Linked DNA regions of Homo sapiens. The protein of the gene in region 4 interacts with the protein of the main gene of each other region in a pairwise test. Each region holds a gene or a part of one and is shown on either strand. Other genes may lie near its edges.

What was found.
Region 1: the proteins of NECAB2 (region 4) and SSC5D interact in binary tests that used the Homo sapiens proteins (3 or more experiments, as listed by UniProt).
Region 2: the proteins of NECAB2 (region 4) and TRIM59 interact in binary tests that used the Homo sapiens proteins (3 or more experiments, as listed by UniProt).
Region 3: the proteins of NECAB2 (region 4) and TRIML2 interact in binary tests that used the Homo sapiens proteins (3 or more experiments, as listed by UniProt).

What each region holds. Positions count from the first base shown.
Region 1 is NC_000019.10:55,498,416-55,505,449, forward strand, and holds part of SSC5D (soluble scavenger receptor cysteine-rich domain-containing protein SSC5D isoform 1 precursor), read left to right. Parts: intron 1-1,400; coding exon 1,401-1,997; intron 1,998-2,074; coding exon 2,075-2,389; intron 2,390-2,618; coding exon 2,619-2,786; intron 2,787-5,700; coding exon of another isoform or gene 5,701-5,771; exon of another isoform or gene 5,772-5,926; intron 5,927-7,034.
Region 2 is NC_000003.12:160,439,787-160,446,786, reverse strand, and holds part of TRIM59 (tripartite motif-containing protein 59), read left to right. Parts: intron 1-7,000. UniProt on the Homo sapiens protein: E3 ubiquitin ligase involved in different processes such as development and immune response. Serves as a negative regulator for innate immune signaling pathways by suppressing RLR-induced activation of IRF3/7 and NF-kappa-B via interaction with adapter ECSIT.
Region 3 is NC_000004.12:188,099,592-188,106,625, reverse strand, and holds part of TRIML2 (probable E3 ubiquitin-protein ligase TRIML2), read left to right. Parts: intron 1-615; exon of another isoform or gene 616-1,035; 5' UTR 1,036-1,257; coding exon 1,258-1,446; intron 1,447-1,693; coding exon 1,694-1,789; intron 1,790-5,352; exon of another isoform or gene 5,353-5,366; coding exon of another isoform or gene 5,367-5,375; coding exon 5,376-5,570; intron 5,571-7,034.
Region 4 is NC_000016.10:83,978,244-83,985,277, reverse strand, and holds part of NECAB2 (N-terminal EF-hand calcium-binding protein 2), read right to left. Parts: intron 6,835-7,034; coding exon 6,726-6,834; intron 4,440-6,725; coding exon 4,414-4,439; intron 4,249-4,413; coding exon 4,151-4,248; intron 1-4,150. UniProt on the Homo sapiens protein: May act as a signaling scaffold protein that senses intracellular calcium.

The DNA.
Region 1 (7,034 bases), on a different chromosome or scaffold from region 4:
AACTTGCTCAAGATCACACAGCAACAACTAACTGGCAGATCTGGGATTCCCACTCAGAGAAGCTTCTGCTTCCTCTTCCTTCCAGGAATCAAGGAAATTTCCCACTAAGAAAGGAGCTTTAGCTTTCCTACGATGAAAGGAAGCAGGCAGGGCACTGGGAGATGGAAAGAAGCCAAAGTGAGAGCCAGTTAACATAAACTCAGGCAATGCCTGTTATTAAATTGCAGAGGCTGAGCCAGGTGCAGGGTCCTCATGCTGGGCTCATGAATGGAATGAACATGGTCTTGGTCTTTGAATAGCTCACAGCTCATGTAGAGAAATACTCTAACAAATCATTGCAAACCTGTGTGACTCGTTATAGTTTGAGGTTACCAAGACCACTGTCAGACTCAATAATTTGCTAGAAGAACTCTTAGAATCAAAGAATCTGTTACACTCAGCGTTATCGTTTATCACAGTGAAAGGATACAGATTAAAATCAGCCAAGGGAAGAGGCGCCTGAGGCAGGGCTCAGGAGACAGTAGGTGTGAGCTTCCAACTGTCCTGTCCCAGTGGAGTTATGCAGACAGCACTTCATTATCCCAGCAACGAAGTGGGACAACACACATGAGGAACTGCCAACTAGGGAAGTTCCCCCAAGCCTTGGCATCCAGAGTGTTCGTGGGGACTTGGCCACGTACATGTGGCTGACCATAAATCACACTGTTAGCATAGGCGATCTGGCATGGCCCAAGTGCCCCAGGGAAAAAAATCTCTTATCAGGCAAGGTGTTCCAAAGGCTTCGAAGTCATCTCCCAGGAGCCGGGGAAAAGGCGAAACCTTTCTTTGGGCAGGGTTAATCCTTTACTGCACACGTGTGCTAATCAGAAAGATGGAAGATGGAGAGTGGTGTCTCAAAGGATGGAGGCATCACCTCTGCTGGAAGCTACGGCTCTTCCCTCTGTCCCCGTCTTCCTGAGGGCCACGGGGGCACCACAGAAGGATTCTGAGTTCGGGAGTGGCCTGTCGGACCTGGGTACCCCACTGGTGGTCAGTAAGAATTGACAGGGAGGTAGGGAGACCTGTCAGAAGGTATAGGAAATGAGGCCCTGACTCAGAGCAGAAGCTGAGGAGATGGAGAGGAGAGGTCAGGTGTGAAAGGGTGAGGGGGTCAGTTATGTCCAGATTGTAAATGCCAAGAAGGCGGGGGCAGTGTCGGGTTTGGCTTGCCATAGGCTACCCGAGGGTCTAATATGGTGTGTGGCTCATAGGAGGTGCTCAATAAATATTTGTGACAATAAATGAATGAATGATGAATGAATGGGAACTGGGTGAGTGACTGGAGAGAAGGAGGGGCCTGGGTAGATGATCTTGTCATCATGGTGTCTCTGTCTTCTCTTCCTGCCCCACTCACCTTCCAGGGCCCCCAGGCCTGGACTCCATCTCAGACCCCTTCAGCTGGAGCTGGATTCCTGGACTGGGGAGAGATCGGGATGCCTGGCTCCCGGGAGAGCTGGCCACCAAGCCCTCTGCAAGTGTGACTGCCAGTGTTCTGGAGAAAACAACCACGAAGGCCCCAGGGAAAATGCCTAAGAGTACTAAGAAGTGGGTGACAAAAAATGCAAAGAGACCAACCACTCAACCCCCAGTGATGCCAACCACGAAACACTCCAGGGCCCAAAGCCCCCCAGACCTAACCTCACAGACCACTGCAGCACTGACCACTGAGGCCTCCCGAAGACCTACCTCTGAGTTTACCAGAAGGCCGACCACGGAGGCCCCCCAGAGATGGACCTCTCACACCACTGCCACGCTGACCCCTCAGGCCCCCCGAGAACGGACCACTAAGACCATGGCAATGCTGACCACTCAAGGCCCCCAAGAAATGACCTCTGAGTCCACTATCAAGAGTATCCCTCAGGCCTCCCTGGAGCCATCTGCTGAGATCCCAGAAGGGTCTCCAGAGTCACCCAAAGACCCGGCCCCCTCTCCCAGTGTTAGCACCACTGGGGAATCAGGTGAGTGGCCGTGAGGGGTGTGGGGAGAGAATGGGAGAGGCTGACCCTCCCTCCTGACCTAAGGGCCTTCCACGCAGGCCTGTTCCGGGTTCGTCTGGCCGATGGGCCCAACCGCTGTGCTGGCCGGCTGGAAGTGTGGCATGCCGGACGCTGGGGAACAGTGTGTGATGACAACTGGGACCTGCGGGACGCCACTGTGGCCTGCTGGGAACTGGGCTGTGGAAAGGTCCGGCCTCGAGTAGGCAAAACCCATTACGGCCCTGGGACTGGGCCCATCTGGCTGGATGACATGGGCTGTAAGGGAAGCGAGGCCTCACTGAGCGACTGCCCCTCGGGGGCTTGGGGGAAGCACAACTGTGACCACGAGGAAGACGTGGGGCTCACCTGCACTGGTACCAGGGCATGGCGGCGGTGGTGGGGTTGTCGGGGGTGGCCAGGAGAATGGAGTCAGGGTGGGGCCAGGTGACGGCACCATGGTCGACTCTAAAGAACTGGGTATGAGGGGTCGGGGTGGGGAGATCCCAGAGTTGCTCCAGAAGATTCCAAAAGGGGAGGGAAGAGCAGCAGCAAGGACCTCTGAGAAAGAGGATGGGGTCAACCATTACCCCAATTTCTCCAAAGGCTACACAGACTATGACGATTATCCCCCCTGGACCTGGGACCCCACCTCAAGAGAGGACCTGGCCAAGGGGACTACCACAGCGGGGGTACCTGGACACACTCTCCCCTGGAGGACCACCCGGCGCCCGGGTAGCTCCTCCCCAGCAATAAGGCGCCTGCCGGACACAGGTGAGAGGCCTGATTGGGGTGGCCATGGAGGGCCTCCATAAACCTCCATTCGCTTCCCTGCAGGGTTTCCAGAAAGACCCTTCTCAATGAGCTGGCTGAGGCCTCGGGGCACCCTGGAAAGGTTTTCCTTGGCTCCTGAGACCCTAAACGCATTACCTCCTTGGGCTCAATGGTGACACTTCTTCAGAGCCAAGGACACCATCTAAGAGATCAGGCTAAGCTCAGCAATCCTGAGCCCATGGCCCTCCTGTAAGCCACACAATATGCAAGCCTGGGGCCCTCAGTCAAACCCACAACCAAGGGCCATTCTGTCATCACATCATCGTCCCCACCCCAGCTCCCCCAGAGCAAGCGAAACCTCACCCATTCTTGAAGCTCACGCTCTGGTCCGGGCCTGGTATGGCTCAGAGGTGGGGACTCCTGGAGTGCAGCTTCTCTCCTTACCCTGGCCATCCCCTCCCTCTGGCCAGCAGAATCAGCCTCCAGGGCCACAGCTCCATCCCCCTCTGCTCTATGGCCTCTGTCTTGCTGCTGCAGCTCCTTCCACACCTGGGACCACGCCCCGCTTTGGCCCCCACATCACTGTCACCACATTCTTCTGCCTTTTTCTTTGCCTGTCTTCCTTGTATCCCCATCTCTCAGGATCCCTGCGAATCCATCTCTGCTCCTGTTTCTCACTTGCTGTTGGTCTCTTTTTTTCATTATCCATTTCTCACCCTCATCATCTCTATCTCTGTATTGCCCAGGATGGAGTGCAGTGGTGTGATCTCAGCTCACTGCAGCCTTGACTGCCCGGGCCCAAGCGATCCTCCTGCCTCAGCTTCCTGAAAAGGTGGGACTACAGATGTGCGCCACCACACCCGGCTCATTTTTAATTTTTGTAGAGACGGGCTCACTATGTTGCCCAGGCTGGTCTCAAACTCCTGAGCTCAGGCGATCCTCCTGTCTCACTCTCTCAAAGTGCTGGGCTTATGTCTGGGTTTATAAGTGTGAGCCACCATGCCTGGCCTCACTTCATTTTCCATGATCAAATTCTCTATCTTTTCTTCTCTGTGCCAATCTCTTTTTGCCTTTCATTTTCAATTTCTCACACTCGTCTTTATGCCGTATTTTTTTCATGGTAATTTCTTTTGCTCTCTCTCACCATCTTTCTCATTTTTTTTCTTTCGTTGTCAGTTTCATATTCCCATCATTTCTTTTTCCCTGTCTTTCTTTTTCAATTTCTCACCCTCATTACATCTATTTCTCACTCCAGTTTTCGTGGTCAGTTTCTCTTTATTTTTTTCTCCCTTGTCCTTCTGTCTTTTTGTTTCATTATCAGTCTCACACTCTCATCTCTGTTTCTCACCTAGTTTTTCCTGGTCAATTTATCTGTCTTTCCCCCTCAGTCTTTCACTTTTCTTTCAGATCTCACCTTCACCACCTCTGTTTCTCACTCCATTTTTCATGGTAAATTTCTCTCTCTCTTTTTTGAGACAGGATCTTGCTCTGTTGCCCAGGCTGAAGTGCAGTGGTGCGATCTCAGTTCACTGCAGCCTTGAACTCCCAGGCTCAGGTGATCCTCCGACCTCAGCCTCCTGAATAGCTGGGATTACAGATGCACACCACCATGCCTGGCTAATTTTTTTTTTTGAGACAGAGTCTTGCTGTGTTGCCCAGGCTGGAGTGCAGTGGCGTGGTCTCGGCTCACTGCAACCTCCACCTCCCGGGTTCAAGTGATTCTCCTGCCTCAGCCTCCTGAATAGCTGGGATTACAGGCGTGTGCCACCACTCCCGGCTAATTTTTGTATTTTTAGTAGAGACGGGTTTCACCATGTTGGCCAGGCTGGTCTCAAATTCCTGACCTCGTGATCCGCCTGCCTCGGCCTCCCAAAGTGCTGGGATTACAGGGGTGAGCCACTGCTCCCGGCCTGATTTTTTGTCGAGATGGGTTCTCACTATGTTGCCCAGGCTGGTCTCAAACTCTTGGGCTCAAGTCATCGGCTTGCTGCGGCCTCCCAAAGTGCTGGAATTGCAGGCGGGAGCCACTGGGCCCAAACTGTTTCTGTATCTTCCGTCCTCTTGTCTTTCACTTTCAGTTCTCAGCTTCGCCACCTGCTTCTCACTCGATTTTTCACGGTCGGTTTTGCTATATCACCTCATACTCTCATCGTCTCCATTTCTCACTGCGTTCTCTCCCCAGGCCCAGCGCTGTGGTATCTTTTCCTTTGTCTCTTACGGTTGTTTTCTGAGTCTCCATCTCCCGCGCCTTCCCTGCAGTCTCCCGCGTGCTCTCTTCTCTCTCCCCCTCGTTTCTCTCATGGTCAGCCCCCTTCCCTCCGTTTCTGTCTCCCGCGGGCTCCTCTGTCCGTTTCTCACCGTCCCCGCCGCCCTCGCCGCTCCCTCACGGGAGGTTTCACTCCCCACCTAAGGGGCAGCGTTTCTGTCCTCCCTCTGTGCCCGTCGCAGTCGCTGTTTCTCCGTCTTCTCCCTCCCTTCCACTCTCCCGCCCTGCTCGCCGTCTGGGGCTGCCTGGGTTTCTGCCTCTGTCGCCCCGCGCCCCGTACCTGTGCCCTCCTGAGAGGCCCAAGCCTCCCGCTCCCGCAGGAGAGTCTCGCCGCAAGCGTCCTTTCCCGCCTTTTTTTTTTCTGGCGCTCAGCACGCATGCGCAGGCGCGGTGGGCCCGGGAATGGAGGGACGGGATGGGGCAGGCGTTCATCTGCCTCGCACCTCGTGACGTCACAGGCGCGCTGCGCCTCCTGATTGGCCAGCCGGCGCATCGCCCGCAGTAATAATAGCTGGGCGAAGGGCAACCAGGCCCCAAGAAGCGGGCCTTGAGGTGGGGAAAGGGAGGGAGGAAGCAGGCCCTAGAGGCGCCGTGACTTGGGGGTGGGTGGGCTCCAGCTGTGAGTTAGAGCTATCATTCCGTTTCCAGAGCCGGAAGCGGGAGCTCCGAGAGGTGATGCTCCTCGTTCAAGGACTGCCAGGGTTGCAGCGCCTCCCTAGCCCATAGCGCCCCCTCGTGGTGGAGGCGGGCACGTGCCGGGCACAGCGGCTGCGGAGACAGCGGGTCCGGCCTCGGGACCCCTCCCGTAGGGTAGGGAGGCAGCCAATGAGCAGAAATAAATGCAGAATCACAAACTGCGCCGGTGAAATGAAAAGACAGCCATGTGTGCCACCTTATCAATAGGAAGACTTGGAGGCGTATGCGGGGTGGAGTGGGAGACGAGGCAGGCATGCATTCTTAGCTTCAGGAGCAATGTAACCTTGAAAAAGTGACTTGGTCTCTTTGAGTCCCCGTTTCTTATTTATATTGTTTTATTTATTTATTATTTATTGAGACGGAGTCTCGCTCTGTCACCCACGCTGGAGTGCAGTGGCGCTATCTCAGCTCACTGCAACCTCTGCCTCCCAGGTTTAAACGATTCTCCTGCTGCAGCCTCCTGTGTAGCTGGGATTACAGGCGCACGCCACCACACCGGGCTAATTTTTGTATTTTTAGTAGAGACGGGGTTTCACCATGTTGGCCAGGCTGGTCTCAAAGCCGACCTCGTGATCCACTCGCCTTGGCCTCCCGAAGTGCTGAGATTACAGGTGTGAGCCACCGCGCCCGGCCACCTGTTTCTTTCTCTGGAAAAAAAATGGGGCGCCAGGGTTGTTGGAAAGGTGGAACGAGAGCTCACCTAGTCTGTGCTGGGCATGCATGACCCCAACTTCAGGCCATAGAAACTGTTGCTACACCTGTGTTTCAGATGGGGTAAAAAGTGAGGCTCAGAGAAGTTTAACTTAGGAGCCACGATTATAACCTGTTTTAAGTGATTTCACACGTTTTGCTCCTTGGATTGGGAACCATATGCTAAAATAGAAGCACGAGTCTGGAGTCCGACTCTCCTACCAGGTTCCAATCGTGGTTCCAACCCGGATTAGAACTAGTTGGGTGACTGCAGGCCCCAATTCAATGAACAAAATGTGTGTGAAATCGTTTAAAACCGCAGAATATTGTTTGTTAGGGTTATTTGCTGAAAACGAACAACAGCTGCAGGATTTCAGGGAACGAGCGATTATTTGTAGTAGAGAAATCAAGGAAACCTCACAGGGGAGATGATATTATTTCATCAGCAGGCCACAAGGAGAAATGAATTCTCAGAGAAGCAAAGGGTGGGAGAAATTTGCATTGCCAGAAATTTTCATCGGTGTTATCCATCTCTGCTAGACTTTAAGCTCTGTGAAAGATCTGTATCTATTTCAATTGCTGCCATAATACATCGC
Region 2 (7,000 bases), on a different chromosome or scaffold from region 4:
GAGAATCTAATGCTGACACTGGCAGGAGGCGGAGCTCAGGTGGGCTCGAGGCGGAGCTCAGGTGGGCTTGCCCGCCACCATGGTGGGGGCGCAGGGTGGGTAGGAAGGGTTGAGGACCCCTGCATTAAATGATAACTCTACATCTTCCCTGCTCTCAAGCCCTGGCAACTACCATTCTACTTTCTGTCTTTGAGGACTGCTTATTGGTTTTGATATTATATATATTATATGCTTTTTTCACATATAATGTGAATGTAAATTTTTTTTCCATTGAACTAATTGACTGAATTATATTAATAGATTTTTCGTTATTGAATTAACTTTGTATTTCTGGAAAGAACCTTATTTAGTCATGGTACAGTGTTTTTTTTAATGTACTCCTGTGTTTGTTTTTGCTAACATTGTATTTAGAATTTTACATCAGTGTCCATTTTTGAAATTAGTCCATTTTTAGTTTGTATTGTCTCAGGTTTTGGAATCATGTTATACTGTCTTCAAAATATTTAGCAAACTTTTCATATTTGTATTCTGGAACAGTTGAGTAGGGCCTAGTCCACACTCAAGGGAGAGGAGATTTCAAGAGTATCCAGAAAGTGTAGGTCATTGGGGGCCATTTTAGAGGCTACCTATCACAGATAGCTAATGGCTTGTTTATTTACTTAAAGAACCAATTCTTAGACTGGTCATGGTGGCTCACAGCTGTAATCTCAGCACTTTGGGAGGCTGAGGGGGGAAGGATGTCTTGAGGCTAGGGGTTTGAGACCAGCCTGGGCAACGTAGTGAGACCCTATCTCTACAAAGCATAAAAACATTAGGCATGTGTGTTAACATGCACCTATCAGCTACTTGGGAGGCTGAGCTGGGAGGATTGTTTGAGCCTGGGAAGTTGAGGCTGCAGTGAGCCATGGTCACACCACTGCATTCCAGCCCTGGTGACAGAGCAAGACTCAGTCTCAAAAAGAGCCATCTCTTGGGTTTATCAGTTCTAGCAATTTTTTTTTTTTTTTTTTTTTGAGACAGAGTCTTGCTCTGTCACCCAGACTGGAGTGCAGTGGCATGATCTCAGCTCACTGCAATCTCCGCCTCCCAGGTTTAAGCGATTCTCCTGCCTCAGCCTCCCGAGTAGCTGGGATTATAGGCGTCTGTCACCCTGCCCAGCTAATTTTTGTATTTTTAGTAGAGATGGGGTTTTGTCATGTTGGCTAGGCTGGTCTTGAACTCCTGACTTCAGGTGGTCCGCCTGTCTCGGCCTCCCAAGGTGCTGGGATTGCAGGTGTGAGCCACAGTGCCCAGCCAGTTCTAGCAATTTAAGTTTTCTAGTTCATTATCATCTTCCATTTATCTTTATTCTTTTTTTATTTTTTGAGACAAAGTGTGGCTCTGTAGTCTAGGCTGGAATGCAGTGGAACGACCGTGGCTCATGGCTCATTGCAGCCTGGACCTCCCAGGCTCAAGCAATCCTCCCTCCTCAGCCTCCTGAGTAGCTGGGACTAACAGGCGTGCGCCACCATACTTAGCTAAGTTTTTTATTTTTTGTAGAGATGGGGTTTCACTGTGTTGCCAGGGCTGGTCTCGAATTGCTGGGCTCAAGTGATCCTCCCACCTTGGCCTTCCACAGTGCTGGGATTACAGGTATGAGCCATTACACCAGGCCAATTTTTATTCTTTTTTTTCCACTTTTCCTCTTTTTTTTTTTTAGTTGAATTATTTTATATTCCTTTTGGTTTGGTAAGTAAAGTGTATGGTGTCAGCTCTGCCCATGTAATTTTTTTTTAGCTCTGTAGATTTTACTGAAGAGTATTTCTGTTGTTTCACATGAATAAATTATGTCGTGGCTGTGTACAGAATTCTCAGCTCATATCCCTTTCCTTCTAGTCTTTGTGGACATTGCTACATTCTGTTCTAGCATTCCTTGTTGCTGGTGATGTTCTGGTTATTTCCTGCTGTGTAACAAACATCTGAAAGCTTGGCTGGCCAGATATTCAAGATGTCTTTTTCACTCATGTGTCTGGAAACTCCTTGCCCTTCTATTTGGCCTGTCTCTTCAGCAAAGTAGCCTGGACTTCTTACATAGCAGTTTGTGGCTCCGAGGCAGCAACCTGCCAAACTAGTTAAGGGCTATACCTAGAACTCACCACATCACTTATACTGTATCCTATTGGTCAGAACAGTCACATGGCCCACACATATTCTAATGGGGGAGAATAGATTTCATCTCCATGTGCAGGGAGTAGCAGCAAAGTCACATTATAGGACAGCTCATGTGGGAGATAATTATTGTGGCCATTCCAATTTTGGAAATTCCAGTCTCCCAGAGGAGGATTCTGAGACCTTTGGTTTAGTTTTCCTTTTTTCATCCTTCTTTTCTGTGTGGATACTTGTAGAATTGTTCTTATTTCTTTAAAATTGTATTATATTTTTAATTGCTTAATAGTTAAAAGCGAAACCATGATTTATAATGAAAAACAGATTCTTTCCCTCTAGAAGCCATCACTTTTATCTGCTTTAACATTTCTTTTGGTATTTTCTTTTATATTTCTAGATATTTATTTTTTGTGGGTTATTTTTTAAGTATGTATTGACTTTCTTATAAGGAAAAATTAAGATTTAGTTCTTAAACTGTTTCCTTCCCTTATTTTCCCCCTCAATATAATTTTGTTACTCTTTGGTAAAATCAGTATTTGATATTTACAATATTATGACTGTTACAGTGACAGCTGAGCCATATACTATAATATTAATATTTCCTCTCTTTTCATGATTCTATCACGTTTTTTCCCTAAATTTAGTTACCTCTCAATATGTTTCATATACATGAAGCATTTCTGTCAGTTCCATTTATTTACTTAAAGATCTGTCTTCTGCATGCCTGAAATCACAGCACTTTGGGAGGTCGAGGCAGGTGGATCATGAGGTCAGGAGATTGAGACCAACCTGGCTATCATGGTGAAACCCCATCTCTACTAAAAATACAAAAAAATTAGCTGGGCGTGGTGGCGGGCGCCTGTAGTCCTAGCTGCTCGGGAAGCTGAGGCAGGAGAATGGCATGAACCCAGGAGGCGGAGCTTGCAGTGAGAGGAGATAGCGGCCACTGCACTCCAGCCTGGGCGACAGAGCGAGACTCTGTTTCAAAAAAAAAAAGATCTGTCTTTTGGATCTTTCTTCCTCTTCTAGAGTGACTCTTCCCTAGGCTTTCACAGTTGTCCTGGACTTCATTTCGCCATTATGCTGGCGAACATTCTTGCTTTTCTTTTCTCCCTGCAGTAGCTTCTTTAGAAAGAGTTGGAAGAAGGTTGTTCATTTTTGAGATCTTATATTGTCCAACTGTCTTTATATAAAAATGGATTATTTTTTTTCTAGGTATAGAGTTTTAATTTCCATTTCAGAAGCCATTTTTTTTCCCCTGAGAATATCAAAGGCATTACTCCATTGTCTTATTGTTTCCAGTGTTACTGATGTTTTTACTGTTTGGAAACCTACATACAGCATAGCTAAATCCAAGATGTTCATCCTAGAAAATATACATAGGTTAATTTTTTGTTCTTTTTCTTCCTTTCAGAAGCCTAGACTGGTTGTGGAAAATTTCTGCTGCATAAAATTTCATATTGGTTTCTGAAAGAACTAGCCTGTAAGCATGGTAGCCACCTGTATCTTTTTTTTTTCTAAAAAAGGCAGGGTCTTGCTCTGTTGCCTAGGCTGGAGTGCAGTGGCACAGTCGTGGCTCACTGCAGCCTCAACTTCTTGGGCTCAAGTGATCCTCCTGCCTCAGCTCCCCGCGTAGCTGGGATTATAGGCGTGTATCACTGTGCCTGACTAATGTTTAATTTTTTGTAGAGAATGGGGGTCTCTTGGTGTTGCCCAGGTTGGTCTTGAACTCCTGGCTTCAAGTGATCTTCCCACCTTGGCCTCCCAAAGTGCTGGAATTACAGGTGTGAACCACTGCACCTGGCCCACCTATATAGTTTACTTCTCAGGCAGCAACCAGAGTCAGAAAGTTCCTGACCTTACAAAGTTATTTTTCAGTTCTAGTTTCTCTTGAATTTGTTGCCTAAAATTAGTTTTTAATCAATAAATCAGTGAGAAAAGGGTAGTCTGAGAATAGATTTTGACTTCTGTGAACTTCAAGTTATCCACAAATTTTTGTCTAAAAAGTATTATTAAAAATTTTACATATGATAGCAGTAACTTTGAGACCAACCACGATTTTTGCTTCCTATTTTTTTTTTTTCCTTTTTTTGAGACAGAGTCTTGCTCTGTTGCCCTGGCTGGAGTGCAGTTGCGCCATTTCATGCCTCAGCTTCCCGAGTAGCTGGGATTATAGGGATTACAGGTGTGCGCCACCATGCCTGGCTAATTTTTGTATTTTTAGTAGATACAGGGTTTCACCATGTTGGCCAGGCTGGTCTCAAACTCCTTGCCTCAAGTGATCCACCTGCTTTGGCCTGCTTCCATTTTATATAAGCTTAGGATATGCTTTACAATGTCATGAATATTCTCATTCTAAAGAAAGTTGAGCTTTTGGGCCCCTAAGTGCATTCTCAGAGTTGTTCCCTAGTTTTCTGCAAGCATAGAATAGGGGTTTGGATAGAAAAGTTAGATTCTGTTTTAGGACTAGTTTTGCTACTTAAACAATTGAATAGCTCCAGTAATATTAAATCTAGATTAAATGTACGTCGACTGCTCAAATTTTATTTCCTACAAAGTGTTATTCTGTTTATTCCTTCAATGTGAATTCTGACATCACTGAAATACTCTGAAAAACACATTTGTTTTTCTTGGGTGGTTTCTGTATGACTTCATAGCTTTCTGTAGGTGTAGGGTAAAGTTGTAAAGTCTTGCCAGCATGCACTCACTTGAATTTATCTGCAGTGAATGTCATCTTCTTTACTGTTGCTCAATTACTTTAATTTGCTGGAATGCTCTACAGTTCAAGCTTAGTCTCTGTGTGACACACTTTGGCTCATTCGGGATCTGAATATTGTCAGTTTGAATGGAGTGCTTTTTTTCTTTTTTCTTTTTTTTTTTTTTTTTTTGAGATGGAGTCTCACTCTGTTGCCCAGGCTGGTGTGCAGTGGTGTGAACTTGGCTCACTGCAAGCTCTGCCTCCCGGGTTGACGCCATTCTCCTGCCTTAGCCTCCCAAGTGGCTGGGACTACAGGCGCCCACCACCACACCTGGCTAATTTTTTTGTATTTTTAGTAGAGACGGGGTTTCACCCTGTTAGGCAGGATGGTCTCAATCACCTGACCTCATGATTCACCCACCTCGGCCTCCCAAAGTGCGGAGATTACAGGCGTGAGCCCCCGCACCTGGCCTGAATGGAGTATTTTCTGATAGATTTTCGTTTTACACCTTTTCCTAAGCAGAGATTTTGCTATTAAAAAAACAAAAAACAAAAAACCCCAAAACAAAAATCTGTATTAACACAGGTCTCTGAAAAGGCATTTGTTCATTGAAGCAGTAACAAGTGAATGCCTGCAGTGTTAAAATTTGTGCCTAAATTGCAGGAATATAACCATTGTTTAGACACAATTCCTGCCCTTATAGGAGGCCTACATTCTAATGTATACAGAAAAGTTACAAAATTCTTAAATAAAATCTTGTTAAAGTGCTATGAAGTAAAAATGCAGTGTTTAATGAGAATAACAGGGGACCTAATCTGGGGAAAAGGCAGGCTCAAGTTGAGCCTTGAAGGAAGAGTTAAGAGTTTGACAGATCGTAAAGATAAGGAGCCAAGTTTGCATTTTATTAAAAATGCAGTTAGTTACTTTTAGTTGCTGTTTTCACAGATTTTTAATCTTAAAAGTTAGTTTTATAGCATGTGATTTGGTAACCTTTATATTTTACGTGAATGGCACTTGGGTGTTTATTTTTTTTGAGACGGAGTTTCGCTCTTGTTGTCCAGATGAGTGCGGTGGTGTAATCTTGGCTCACTGCAACCGCCACCTACTGAGTTCAAGCAATTCTCCTGTCTCAGCCTCCCAAGTAGCTGGGATTACACGCATTTGACACCACACTGGGCTAATTTTGTATTTTTAGTAGAGATGGAGTTTCTCCATGTTGGTCAGGCTGGTCTCAAACTCCCAACCTCAGGTGATCCGCCCGCCTCGGCCTCCCAAAGTGCTGGGATTATATGCGTGAACCACTGCGCCTGGCCATGGCACTTGGGTTTTTAAGTTTTGCCTAAGGTACTTTCAACAGTGGTATAACTTGATTTTTCTCTATCAAGGGGTAAGCTAGTCTTTAGAATTGTGGCTGATGCATTGAGGGTAGGTATAAAGGAAAGCAGTAGGAGGTGGTAGGGTGCAAAATGGTCAGGCTTCTGTTACTGGAAATATCAGTAGTAGCTTGCCAAGAGGTCAAGTTACTTGTGTCAGAGATGGTCTCTGAACTATCGCTACGTTTCTTTTTCTGTCTCAGAGAAATACGGATCGAGAGACTTTCATGAAGGAAAGATGACTAATGGTCTTCTTTTTGTTCTTTACCATTTAGTGCTCTAGTTTTTCACTTAAAAATTAATTCACAGTTACTATAGTCAACTCTTATCTTTCAAACTGATTTTTATTATAAGAATTAATTCAAAATTTTTCTGTCTTCTAAATCTGCAAGTTAAAATTATTGCTTTAGAGAATTATACTATGCTGATCCTGGGGTTTAAGCGTTCTTGTATTCTAATTTGAGAAGCTAAAAAATTTATGGTAGTAACAGTTACTGTGGAGAAATTTGATAGCTTGCTTTAGAAACCATTATTGAGCCAACTGGGACATGTTTCCTCCTTTTGTGTTAAAGAATATACTTTTGCTAAGCCTAACTTGTTGTAATAGAAATAGTCTTGTCTACTCATTATATGTGCTTGGTTTTGATTTTATCATCTTAAATGTTAAAATGTTGCACAAAATAGTTGTAATCACTAAGTAGACTTTAACAGAACACTTTGAATTTTAGTCTTTATTATGTAGTGTATTAGTCTGTTTTCATGCTGCTGATAAAGACATACCTG
Region 3 (7,034 bases), on a different chromosome or scaffold from region 4:
TGGGAGACCGTCTCCTGGCCGGTCACCTGGAGGGCGTGTAGCTCCGGGGCGCGGACCAAGAACTGCATGTTGGTGACTGAACCGCGGTTCCGGCTGCCGCCCCCGCGAAGATGGAGTCAAAGAGGAAGGAGCGAGGGCGCTCACGGCCAGACCGCGGGCAGCGCGTCACGTCACTCCTGAAATTTTATTTCGGAAACAATTATTGAGAAGAGTGGCTTTGGCTTCACTGTTTTGCAAATCTCTTTAATTGATGGCTTCTTAGAAGAGCCGTTTTCGGCCGGGCGCGGTGGCTCACGCCTGGAATCCCAGCACTTTGGGAGGCCGAGGCGGGTGGATCACGAGGTCAGGAGATCGAGACCATCCTGGCTAACACGGTGAAACCCCGTCTCTACTACAAAAATACAAAAAATTAGCCGGGCGAGGTGGCGGGCGCCTGAAGTCCCAGCTACTCGGGAGGCTGAGGCAGGAGAATGGCGGGAACCCGGGAGGCGGAGCTTGCAGGGAGCCGAGATCGCGCCACCGCACTCCAGCCTGGGTGACAGAGCGAGACTCCGTCTCAAAAAAAAAAAAAGAGGAGCTGTTTTCCCTTATTTGCTTCCCCATTCCTTCTGTTGCATGTGTTTTGTCCCAGCTGTAGTCCCAGCTACTCCGGAAGCTGAGGTGGGAGGATCGCTGGAGCCTGGGAGTTCCAGAGGCTGCAGTGAGCCGTGGTCACGCCACTGTACTCTAGACTGGGCAACAGAGCAAGACCCTGTCTCTCAAAGGGAAAGTATTTTAATAACTTTTTCAGATACTTGTGGTTTTTTTCTGTAATTCTATCAACGAACCTCTTTCGCACTCTGTTACCTCACTCTAGTCCTGAAGTTCCTTCAGTAATTAGCGCGATGCCTTTAGAGCACTGTTTTCCCCTGAATGACTCGTAAGTGAGTGCTGTTCCTTGTAATTAATTTTCAGCCTATTGCTCAAGATTGTCAGAAGACCTGAGGGAAACCCGCTGGTCTTAGAACACTGGCCTAACTCTGTCTTTTCCCCAAGCAGGCAGCTGCCAGAAATTTGTTGGATTTGAGGAGTCCAGAGCGCCGACCCGCTCTGTCTGCGTGGACTTATTTCCTTGGATCTTCGTGGACTCTGAAGTTGCCAAGTGTGTGTGCCTGCTCCAGAAAACAAAGGAAGCCACCATTTTTTCTCATTCACAGTGCAGGGAGATACCTCAGTAGAAGCATACAGTCCAGTCTTCAACTAGGGACCCCTACCAGGATGTCCAAAAGGCTCAGCCCTCAGTTACAGCACAACATCACAGAAGATGCCTATTGTGAAACACACCTGGAACCAACACGGCTGTTCTGTGATGTTGACCAAATCACACTCTGCAGCAAATGCTTCCAGTCCCAGGAGCACAAACATCACATGGTGTGTGGGATACAAGAGGCTGCTGAGAATTACAGGGTAAGAGTCACTCACGCAAATCCCAAAACACTCTGGCCAACTCCTATATGGATGAAATGGACAGACATTCTGGTCCTCCAAAACCATTACCTTAGTTGATGTTTATTACAGAATATTAGATAAGTTCGTTGAACCTTCAACCTAAAGGCTAAGAAAATATATACTCAGAGTTGTTGGCTGTTTAAGGTCAGGAATCCAACTGTTCTAAATCAATGATCTCACCTGGAATTCTGTGCTTTCTCTATAGAAGTTATTCCAGGAAATATTGAACACATCGAGGGAGAAACTTGAAGCAGCTAAAAGCATATTGACTGATGAGCAAGAAAGAATGGCGATGATTCAGGTCAGTGAGTGCTTATCTTGATTCTTGGGGGGAAATTACCAGTAATGTTGTTAGAAAATAGTGTATCATAAACAAAGTCAAAAGACAAATCACAAAGCAGGAAAAATGTGAAATCTATAGGAAGGAAAAGTGCTAATATCTTAATGTATAAAAAGCTCTTTAAAGTCAGTAAGAAGCTGGGTGTGGTGGCTCACGCCTGTAATCCCAGCACTTTGGGAAGCTGAGGAGGGCGGATCACTTGAGGTCAGGAGTTTGAGACCAGCCTGGCCAACATGGTGAAACCCCATCTCTACTAAAAATACAAAAATTAGCTGGGTGTGGTTGCACGAGCCTGTAATCCCAGCTACTCGGGAGGCTGAGGCAGGAGAATCGCTTGAACTGGGAGGCAGAGGTTGCAGTGAGCCGAGATCACACTACTGGACTCCAGCCTAGGCCACAGAGCAAGACTCCATCTCAAAAAAAATAAAAATAAAAAAAGTCAGTAAGGAAAAGACTAGAAATTTAATTTTAAAAAACGATCAAATAAGAGTTTGCAGAAAAGAAAGTAAATATATTTTAAATACATTGAAAGAATTTGAACTTTGTTCGTGGTAAGAGAAATACAAATTATATGGTGAGTAAAATGGCATTTGCAATGCTATTTGCAATGATCAAAAAGATTAACGACACCGTTTATAACAATGACATAGGAGAATGAGCATCTCTTGTACTTCTGGTTGCCACATAAATTCTAAAACCCTTTAAAGAGCAATTTGAGAATAGCTATTCAGATTTGAGGGTTCACCACCTGTTAGGCATATTTCACTTCTAATTTCAGCCTGTATCTTCATACTTAATCCTATTCTGTGCAAGGTATCCCCGATTCTGGGTCTTTTCTCTCCCTCAATTTTTAAAGGAAATAAATGCCTACTTAGGGAAGATAGTGGAGGAGAATTGCCTGGCTAGGTAAGGATTTTTCAACCGATCCCCCTTCTTTTTCAGTTCCAAGTACCATGTGTTCAGCAAATACTGAGATCCCACTGTTTGCCAGGGACTATGCAAGGTGCTAGGGGCTCACCAATGGAAAACAAAAAAAACCAGCTCTGCTTTCGTGGAACTTGCATTCTAGTGGATATAAACAAAATAAGTTTAATATATAGTATGTTACCTGGGAAGTGTTTAAAAAAATTTTTTTTAAGTGAGAAAGGAAGCAATGGAGTGAGCTTGTAAATAAAGTGATCAGAACCTTGTTATTCAGAAGGTGGCACTGAAGGAGGTGGGGGATTGGGCCATGCAGTTTTCTTGGGGAGGAATATTCTAGGCAGAGGAAAGGCCTGGAGGCTGCCGTGTATGTGGCTGGAGCTGTGTAAGGAAACGGGGGCTGTAGGTGATGAGATCAGAAGAAGGCGGTCAGTCATTTAGGGTGGCAGCCTTCAATGAAATACAAGCTTCAAAACCACTGGAAGGTTTCGAACAGAAGGCTGACATGATTTAACTTCCATTTTCATAGAAACACGCTAGCTGCCAAATGAAAATAGACATTAAGATAGTAAAAGCAGGCTGGTCGTGGTGGCTCATGCCTGTAATCCCAGCACTTTGGGAGGCCGAGGCGGGCGGATCACGAGGTCAGGAGATCGAGACCATCCTGGCTAACACGGTGAAACCCCGTCTCTACTAAAAAATCGGGTGTGGTGGCAGGTGCCTGTAGTCCCAGCTACTCAGGTGACTGAGGCAGGAGAATGGCATGAACTTTGGAGGCGGAGCTTGCAGTGAGCCGAGATGGCGCCACTGCACTCCAGCCTGGGCGACAGAGCGAGACTCCGTCTCAAAAAAAAAAAAAAAAAAAAAAAAACCAAGAGAGTAAAAGCAGAGGTGGAGAGACGTGCAAAGGGACTTGCAATAATTAGGGAGAGATGATGGTGAGCTGGGGGACAGGTAGAGCAGTGGTGAGAAGTAGTCAGGTTCTTGATAAATCTTGATTTCATTGAATCTTTTTTTTTTTTTTTTTGAGATGAAGTTTCGTTCTTGTTACCCAGGCTAGAGTTCAGTGACGCGATCTCGGCTCACTGCAACCTCCGCCTCCCGGGTTCAAGCAATTCTCCTGCCTTAGTCTCCCAGGTAGCTGACATTACAGGGGCCCGTCATCATGCCTGGCTAATTTTTTTATTTTTAGTAGAGACGGGGTTTCACCATGTTGGTCAGGCTGGTCTCGAACTGCTGACCCCATGATCCACCTGCCTTGGCCTCCCAAAGTGCTGGGATTACAGACGTGAGCCCGGACAATTTCACTGAATCTTAAATAGCTTAATAGAGATGCTATTTAAGCATCTCTAAGATGACTACTTTCAAATATATATCCCTAGCTCAGATTTCCAAATGGTAGTAGGCTTCATGTCCAATTTCCTACTTACTATCTTTACTTGGATGTCTAATTGACTAATCAAATTCATCACATCCCGAGCTAACGCACACTCCTCACTTCTGGAATCCAGCCTTTCCATAGATTCTCTCTATATATTTTGGTAATTCCATTCTTCCAGTTGCTTAGTCTAAAATTTTTGGTGTCTTTCGTCCATGACTCCTTTTTTCCCCACAACTCTTACCCAAGCATCAGCAAATCCCATTGGCCCTTTTCCAATGTCCTGGTCTCCTCCTCTGTTTGACAGAGGCTATAGCTTCCTTAGTTTTTCCTTATTGATGAACATTTCTTTTTTTTTTTTTTTTTTTTAAGATGGAGTCTCCCTCTGTCGCCCAGGCTGGAGTGCGGTGGCGCCATCTCGGCTCACTGCAAGCTCCACCTCCCGGGTTCACGCCATTCTCCTGCCTCAGCCTCCCGAGTAGCTGGGACTACAGGCGCCCGCCACCAAGCCCGGCTAATTTTTTGTATTTTTAGTAGAGACGGGGTTTCACCGTGTTAGCCAGGATGGTCTCGATCTCCTGACCTCGTGATCCGCCTGCCTCGGCCTCCCAAAGTGCTGGGATTACAGGCGTGAACCACCGCGCCCAGCCAATTCATTGATGAACATTTCTTCGTCTGCATTTTATGTTCTAAAATTGTGTTGATGTCTTGGCTGATGTTGACTCAAATTCTATTTCTCCTTTGGGTTTATTCCTTTTCTTCTGTACTTTACATTTCCTCGTCTTTTTTTGTTTGTTTGTTTTTTTGAGACAGAGTCTAGCTCTGTTGCCAGGCTGGAGTGCAGTGGCGTAATCTCTGCTCACTGCAACCTCCACCTCCCAGGTTCAAGCGATTCTCCTGCCTTAGCCTTCCGAGTAGCTGGGATTATGGGTGCTCCCCACCACGCCCAGCTAATTTTTGTATTTTTAGTAGAGATGGGGTTTCACCATGCTGGCCAGTATGGTCTCGATCTCCTGACCTCGTGATCCACCCACTTTGGCCTCCCAAAGTGCTGGGATTGCAGGCGTGAGCCACTGCGCCCAGCCTTCCTTGTCTTTATATTGGGGTTAGAGATGGAAAGAATACATTGTGGTCAGTGTAAGATATATATATCTATATATAGATATAGATATCTATCTATTATGACGTGTGTGTGTGTTGTTAATCTATCATGTTTAACCTGAAGTCTATCATGTCTATATGAGGAAGGAAGAGGAACAAAATTTTAAAAAGATGATTGAGTCTGAGTATAGTATGAGACTCCGGTTGTTGAATGAAGAGTGTGAGCAGAATCTCCAGAGACAGCAGGAATGCATATCTGACTTGAACCTGAGAGAAACCCTTCTGAATCAAGCGATCAAGCTTGCCACCGAGCTAGAGGAGATGTTCCAGGAAATGCTACAGGTGAGATATTGAAAACAACATCCTCATATTTGAGAAATGAGAAAAAGAAGAGCTAAACATTATGTCAATTCCAAAATAACATAGCCAGTGACAACCACACATGTATTAAATGAATTATATACCTACCTGGCAACTCCATTTCTATGAATTTATCTTGACATGCATATAAAAAGACATAAATAAAGCACAATATACCTATAAATATATTTGTACACATATTACTGTATTATGCTTCAAACATACTTACACACATAGAAAAAGACACCTGGGTAAGGCAACACTGAAACTGAGTTTCAGTTTAGAGCCATGGTTTAGAATTCACCTTTCTTTTTTTTGAGACAGAGTCTGGCTCTGTCTCCAGGCTGGAGTGCAGTGGCGCAATCTCAGCTCACTGCAAGCTTCGCCTCCCGGGTTCACGCCATTCTCCTGCCTCAGCCTCCCAAGTAGCTGGGATTACAGGTGCCCGCCACTACGCCCGGCTAATTTTTTGTATATTTAGTAGAGACGGGGTTTCACCGTGTTAGCCAGGATGGTCTCGATCTCCTGACCTCATGATCCACCCGCCTCAGCCTCCCAAAGTGCTGGGATTACAGGCGTGAGCCACCGCGCCCGGCCTAGAATTCACCTTTGAAGCCGGATGAATGGAGTTCCTATCTGAGCCAGCTGTTTACTGGCTCCTGGGTGGCCTACGACCTGCTGCTTAACCTTTGACTTGGTTCCTTTAGCTGTAAACTGGATATAACAGTGACCCCTAATTTATAAAATTATTGTGAGATTTGAGTGAGATAATCTGCTAAAGCTTATTAAATCGTGTCTTGTTCATGTTAAGCAGTTGATGAGTAGCAGATGTTACAATTATAACATTCATAGCAAGAGGTTAGAAACACCCTGTATTTGTCAATAGAAGACTCACAAAATGTGCTCCATACATACATGGAAGAATACTCTTCAGCATGTTAAGATGATGTCATGGCTCTGTGTATATGAATAAGGAATGTTCTCCAAGAATAAAGTAAGTTGTCAGATTAGTAATCAAATATAATAAACTATCACTTATGTTTATGTTTTTTCCCCCTAAATAACATACTCAAGTTGCGTATGTGACTACGCAGTATATGTAAAGTATACTTGGAAGGATAAAAAGAAAATTGATATCAGTAACGTAATTATTTATTTCTTATTAGTTAATCTATATACCTTAATTTTAATTGATTTCAAGTTAATGAAAAAATAGGGAACCTTCTGAACAAACAGCCACAGAAAAAACATGAAATGTTTTAGGTGCATATTAATGTGAGTAAGGGCTGCGTGCACACACATCTGTATTGGCTTAAACATACATAACAGGGGGCAAAGAATCAACTGTCTCTTGAGAGGAATCCTGCTTCAGCAGAAGAATATCATGGCCTTGCCTAATTATGTCTGTTCCTGGGGTAGCAGGCAGAAAAGCAGGGTTTTTTTTTT
Region 4 (7,034 bases):
GCAATGGCGCAGTCTCTACTCACTGCAACCTCCACCTCCCGGGTTCAAGTGATTCTCCTGCCTCAGCCTCCCAAGTAGCTGGGATTACAGGCGCCTGCCACCACGCTCGGCTAATTTTTGTATTTTTAGTACAGACAGGGTTTCACCATGTTGGCCACGCTGGTCTCAAACTCCTGACCTCAGGTGATCTGCCCGCCCCGGCCTCCCAAAGTACTGGGATAACAGGCGTGAGCCACTGCACCCAGCCCCCATCAAAAGTAAATTTTAAAAATGTCAACATTATCAAAAAAACCATTCCATTTCACATATGAAAAAGAACAGCAAAAACAACAAACCTAAAGTTATAAGAGGGAGGAAATAATAATGATAGGAGCTATAAATAAATAAGAAAACATGTCATGAAATTTAAATAAATGTGCCAGGAGCTTGTTATTTGAAACAGCTAATTAAAACAGGCAAAACTGTCAAATACAAGGTTTTAAAATGTAGAAAAATGGGAGAAACTTAAGATGTGAGCTACAGCAGCACATTTTATTTTTTTATTTTTGAGAGACAGGGTTTCTCTTGTCACCCAGGTTGGGTTGCAGCGGCATGCTGTGCCTCACTGCAGCCTCGACTTCCCAGGCTCCAGAGATCCTCTCACCTCAGCCTCCCAAGAAGGTGGGAACTACAGACACATCCCACCATGCTCGGCTAATTTTGTTTTGTTTTGTTTTTGGTAGAAACGGGGTCCCACTATGTTGCCCAGGGTGGTCTTGAACTTCTGGGCTCAAGCGATCCTCCCGCCTCGGCCTCCCAAAGTGCTGGAATTACAGGCGTGAGCCACCGTGAGCGGCAGCAGATCTTTTATTGAACTTAATGTGCATTAAGTGCCTGCGTGTGTCAAACAATGTTTTAGATTTTTAAAAATAATCATAAAACATTCCATGCATGACTGATTGTAAAAACGACTATGCCCAGGGCAGTTTTGTTTAAAAATATTCCGCCGGGCGCGGTGGCTCACGCCTGTAATCCCAGCACTTTGGGAGGCCGAGGAGGACAGATCACGAGGTCAGGAGATGGAGACCATCCTGGCTAACACGATGAAACCCCGTCTCTACTAAAAATACAAAAAATTAGCCAGGCGTAGTAGCGGGCGCCTGTAGTCCCAGCTACTCGGGAGGCTGAAGCAGGAGAATGGCGTGAACCCGGGAGGCGGAGCTGGCAGTGAGCTGGGACTGTGCCACTGCACTCCAGCCTGGATGACAGAGCGAGACTCCGTCAAAAAAAAAAAAAAAAAAACCACCATATATATATATGTATTTTACAATGGACAAGTGAAAAAGTTGACTAAAAGTAGAGATGACCTTAAAATAACTATGAAAATCATCCCCTCCCCTGTTTAACACTGAGACCCAAGCGTTATGGATAAATTCTATTTTTACGTAGAAAAATGATGCTATGTTAGAGAAGCTGATTCATACACAGAACACATTCAAAACCACTTCACAAAATCATTCCCAAGCTATCATCCGATCTCCACTCCCAATGGAGACAGAGATAAAATTCTTGGCTCATGACAAGGACTCAGTAATGTGATAAAAGAATAATATACCAATTAGGGTTTATCACAGGGAGCGAAGGATTGTTCAATTTGAGACAATCTAAAAATAGCATCCACCCCATCAATAGCTTAGGGGAAAAAAATCATATGATCATTTAAAAATACCAAAAGGCATTTGAAAAAATTCACCACCACCCTCCTAAGACAAAATGGAAAAAAGGGAATGCAAAAATATTTCTCCAACATGCTGACAAGGATTCTAAAATAAGAGCTGGTATTAATATGATAATCAGCAGAGAAGTACTAGAGATGCACTCGAAAATCAGGAGCCAAACAAGCATGCCTGGCCGTGCCCCACCACGACGTTTTAGAACATGAGAGAAATGCCACAGGATAGACAGGGAAGCAAGAGGGGCACGTGTTAGAATGCAGAGACAACGGCACTCTTAATAACTGATGCTGCGGCTTGACGAAAGCAAACAGCACATACAAGAAAAGCATTCAAAACAACAACCGACAAGCTGCATTTCTACAAACAAAAACCACTTAGGAAATACGCAAGCAAAAGAAATGCCAATCACATCACACCTGTAATCCCAGCACTTTGGGAGGCCGAGGTGGGCGGATCACCTCAAGTCAGGACTTTGAGACCAGCCTGGCCAACATGGTGAAACCCCGTCTCTACTAAAACTACAAAAATTACCCAGGAGTGGTGGTGGGCGCCTGTAGTCCCAGCTACTCGGGAGGCTGAGGCAGGAGAATCACTCAAACCCAGGAGGCAGAGGTTGCAGTGAGGCGACATTGTATCACTGCACTCCAGCCTGGACAAGAGTGAGACTCTGTCTCAAAAAAAAAGAAAAAGAAAAAGAAAAAGAAAACAAAAAAAAAGGAAATGCCAATCACGGATGCAACAACCTATCATCACCACGACTGCCACAAAAAAACCACCAAAGACCACCCCTGACATCATACGCACATGACTTCCAAGAGCAAGATCTCTAAAACCGGTCTAACTTGTATCAGTAGACACTGATGGAGAACTCTCTTATGTTCCTGAAAAGTCTGACTGAAGACCAAGACGCAACCATGGATGTTACGAATGCCTCACAGCATGGCTAGGACGTGGGCCCCTTCTAAGGTGAGAAAACCGAGGCTCAAGGAGGTGGTTTCCATTTCCCAGGGTCATCTGTGAGCACATGGTGACCTCACACAGCCTGTTTGGAGCAGAGCTGGCATTGCCACCCTTGTCTGGGTGACTCGGAAGCCTGGGATCTTCCCATGCTACCTTCTAATCCACCGCCTATACCTTGATACTTGGGGATATCAAACGATATTCTACAAAGATTAATACTTGAAGGGAGCAGGTCTTACATGGTATTAAAATATACTCTAAAACAGCAAGACTCAAAACAGCATGATACTGGGACAGAAATGGAAATGTGGAATCGTGGAGGCCCAGAATGAGGCCCAACTATTGTTAGATATATGGCAAAACAGAGACTGTCTAATACATGGCGGTCACTAACTGAGAAGCATGGGAAAATTGCACAGAATGGGTTTTAATATCTGGCTGAGCGTACAGTAGGAGCGTATTGATACAAACCAGCAGGTGCCTTTGCTCCGAGCTTGGTCCTGCATGCTCAATAGCTCAGAGGCCTTACTTGGCTCAATCTCTGAAGGACTTCGTAATTCATAAGGTGGATGTCTCCATTTCACAGATGGAAAAACTGAGGCTCAGAAAGGGAAATAACCAGCTCAGATCCCTCAGCCAGGTCTGGCTGGCTTTATCAGCTAAGTTCCCCGGCCTCAACCGGCAGACAAGGCTGGGCTTTTCTGGACTCCCAAAGCTCAGGGTGCTGGTGGCTGCTGCCTCGAGCACCTGTGGGTCCCTCACCCTTGCATGCTCCCAGTTCCCTCACCGTGGGCCTGGACCAGTGTGCCCTATGGCTGCTCTCTGCTCCTGGATGACTGACTCTCCAGTTGCCTCCTGGGTGTGCCTGGAGTCTCATGCTACACTCCCATGCCTATTGCCAGGTCCCTGACTCAGTTTCCCCACTCATCCCAGCCAGCAGCTATGGCTGTCTGGCTGTGACTCTGTTGAGTTCACCTTTGTGAGCCTCTGTTTCCATAGCTGTGAGATAGTGGAGGTGACAGCAACCACCCATAGGGTTGCTGTGAGGATTAAACCAGGTGCTGAGCATCGAGAACCTGATATGGGACAGGGTTCAGATGCATGAACCACCACCCCCCACCACGCCCCACCCCGCCCCCTCTTCCAGTCTTGTAAGCCCACCCTGAAGGGTACGACACCTGTCTGGGGACCCCTTAAGGGCACAGGGTGATTGCGGCCACCCTTTCTAAGGCCCCAGCCCAGGATCAGGCCTGATTCCGGGAAAATGCCTCCTGCTCCCAACCAGAGCCATTCACCAAACCATTCTATTCCCTTCCCAGTTCATCTCAGCTGCTTCAAAGAGGCCCAGGCAAAGCCCACCCCTGAGATAGGCCTCCCTGGCGGCCTGTCTTCAAAAATCCAGGCATCCTTAGGCAAGGGTGGAACTGAAGCAGCACTGGAGCCCTGGACCCCGGGGGCCACCTACACCCACTGACCTTCTTGGTATAACCCATGGCCTTCAGGACAGAGTGATTCAAGGTCTCCAGGGAGGCCAGGACATCCTCATAGTCACCCATGTGGTCCACAAAGTAATCTGGGGAAGGAAAGGCAAAGGTCAGGGGTCACAGGTCCTGCCCCTCCCACTCAGCACTCCTGCACCTCCCACCTGCGCTACCTCCAGCCTCCCCTGCCTCAGGCCCTTCTCATCCAGCCCCATCCCAGCATCCCCATCTTGGTCCCAGCATAGCCAGGCACCTACCACACAGCTCCTTGGTGTCCACATGGCTGCAGAGACAGACAGAGGCAGAGACAGACAGAGACAGAGAGGGGGTTAGCAGGCCTGACCCTGCACAGCCTGCGAAACACACATCCTGCCTGCTCTTTGCAGCCTGTGTGCTGGCCCCACAAGCTCCGCCTTACAGAAGAGGGTGCAGCAGGTAGGTGACACCCCCGCCCCTGAAGGCCCACGTCTGTCTGATCCCCCACACCACCCACCCTTGTTCTGTTTTCTCGGAGTCTGCTGACCCCATCATGAATAAATGACACCAAGGGGAGGGCCAAGCTGGGGGCCAGGAAAGGGGTAAAGGGACAGAGAGTGGGGACCCATTACTGTGACGGGCTGTCAGCAAAGCTCTCATCTGACCCACTGACCCACCCCCAGTCGACCCTGCCTGCTGGGTCCTGGAGTTCCTGGGGTTGTGGCAGAGCCCTTCCTGTTCTGGTCGCAGCCCCTGGGTCCCATATCCCCATTCCTACAGCCTGGAGAAGGGTCCTGTCCTTTCTTGGGGGAGCAGGCTGAGCATGAGCCTATCCCCCATGGCAGTGAAGGAGCACAGACCGGCCCCAAGATAAGGGGTGCAGTGCTGGGAACTATGGTGGTTCTGCAGCTTAGGAGCAGATTTGATAAGCTGAGGCCCTCTGGGACTGGCTAGAGATGGTCTGGATAAGGAGCTACTGCCAAGTCAATGTGCAAGGGACCCAATACGGTGGTGGCCCTTTCTGGGCCTAGGTCCCTCATCGTGCTCAGTGGAGCCCAGGCTCAGCAAAGCACATCTGGACAGAAGGCTTCTGTGGCCCAGTGAATCTGCACTCGGGGGCTCTGCATGCTCTGTCAGGAGGTGCCTCCAACCTCCATCTCATATTCAGAGTTCTGGCAAGTCCTGCAGAAAGCGACCCTGTCATTCTGCTTTAATTCATGTTTCACAAAACTTTTTGATGGTTTGTACACTGTTTTGGGCACAAAGTCTATTTAGCATCCCAAGGGGCTAATGTTCGTGGCTCACACCTTAGGTAATGTTGGGGAGATTAATCCTAAAAGTCTTTATAGAGCTTTGACCTTCCATAACCGCGAGTCCTCCCTGCACCCCCACCCACCCACACGTACTCTCACAGTTCGACTCTCAAACCAGTGCCTCCTCCTCCCTCCGCCTCCACCCCCTCCTCTACCCCGCTGGTCCTAACACAAAAGGCCCTGAAAGAGAAGGTCTAAATCAATGGGCACCTGCCTGGCCCCTTCAAAGCACCCCAGGAAGCTGCAGTAACAGCTCAGAAATCTCCATCTGGCCCCAGACAGTTCTCCATTCTGCAGTCTGGAGCCTGAAGCCATTTCTTTAAAGTGGCCTTTCCCAGAGGATGGTATCTGCTCCACTTACCATATCCCGGTCCCCAGCCAGTGCCCCCCAGGACTCTCTCAGCCGCAGCCTCTGGTCCAAACCACCACTGTACTCTACCCCTTGCACACTGGTTTGGTGGTAGCTCCTTGTCCAGACCATCTCTAGTCAGTCTCAGAGAACCTCCGCTTACCAAATGTGCCCTAAGCAGCCCTCCAGAAGCTTGGGTCCTCATCACGCGAGTAGGCCTGAGAAAGGAGACCAGGTGGGGCTCTGATCCCTCCTGAAGGTGGGGTTGAGGAGAGGGCTCAGACCTCATCCTGTCTGGGGAATCCCAAGAAAAGGGCAAGATTGGAGGTGAGGCTGGGAAGGGTCAAGGGTAAGTCTGAGTAGAATCTGCATTTTCCACTTGATTTAGAGATGGGTGGAGACAGAGTTTTTGGCTGATTCTGAGATGCAGGTCAGGGTTATGACTGGGTTGGAGAAAAGGTTTAATAAGCTATAATGATAGACGTAGTGTTGAGTTAGGATTCGTGTTTGGTTTAACACAGGAGTCAGTGTTAGGATGACGTTCAACCTCACAGTTAATGTTGGGACTGGGAGGACACACAGGCATTGGGGTTGGGGTGAGAACTGGCTGCTGGCTGAAGATGGCAGAAGGATGAAGTCATTGCCACCTTCCCATTTTCATAATCCCATGTCCACTGTGCAAAACCAGGAGTCTCTCCTTAGTTGGCCATGTGCACTCAGAAGACACACTTGCGATAGTAGCCAATGCAATATGAATCTGCACACGCCCCATTCACCCCAGGCAGTGAAGAGCTGACTTCTGGATTAGCAAATTTGGGGATTTTCAGTTCTCCTGCCCCTTACAGGGGACTAGGAACGGACACTAGATGAAAAGATGCCTCCACCACAGCCCACACACACCCCCACTCTGCCAGCCAGGACTGAAGCTCACTTGGTGTTGTCAGAGTCAATCGTGTGAAAGAGATCCTCCAGTTCTTTCTCATTAAGGACGCCATCTGCAAAGAAGAGCTGGAATTCCTCCAAGGACAGCTTCCCATCATCTGCAAGGAAGGAAGCAGAGAAAGGAGCTGGTGTCTGCAGAGATAAGGCTGGTGGGGCTAGTGCATGCACGGCCCCCAAATCCAGTCAATGGCCTGACTGACAGAACAACTGCAGCTCAGATAATCCCTACCCTCCCAGCTAATCCCCAAACTAAAAGACAAATTCCATTTTAGATAATCCCTACCCACCCAGCTAATTC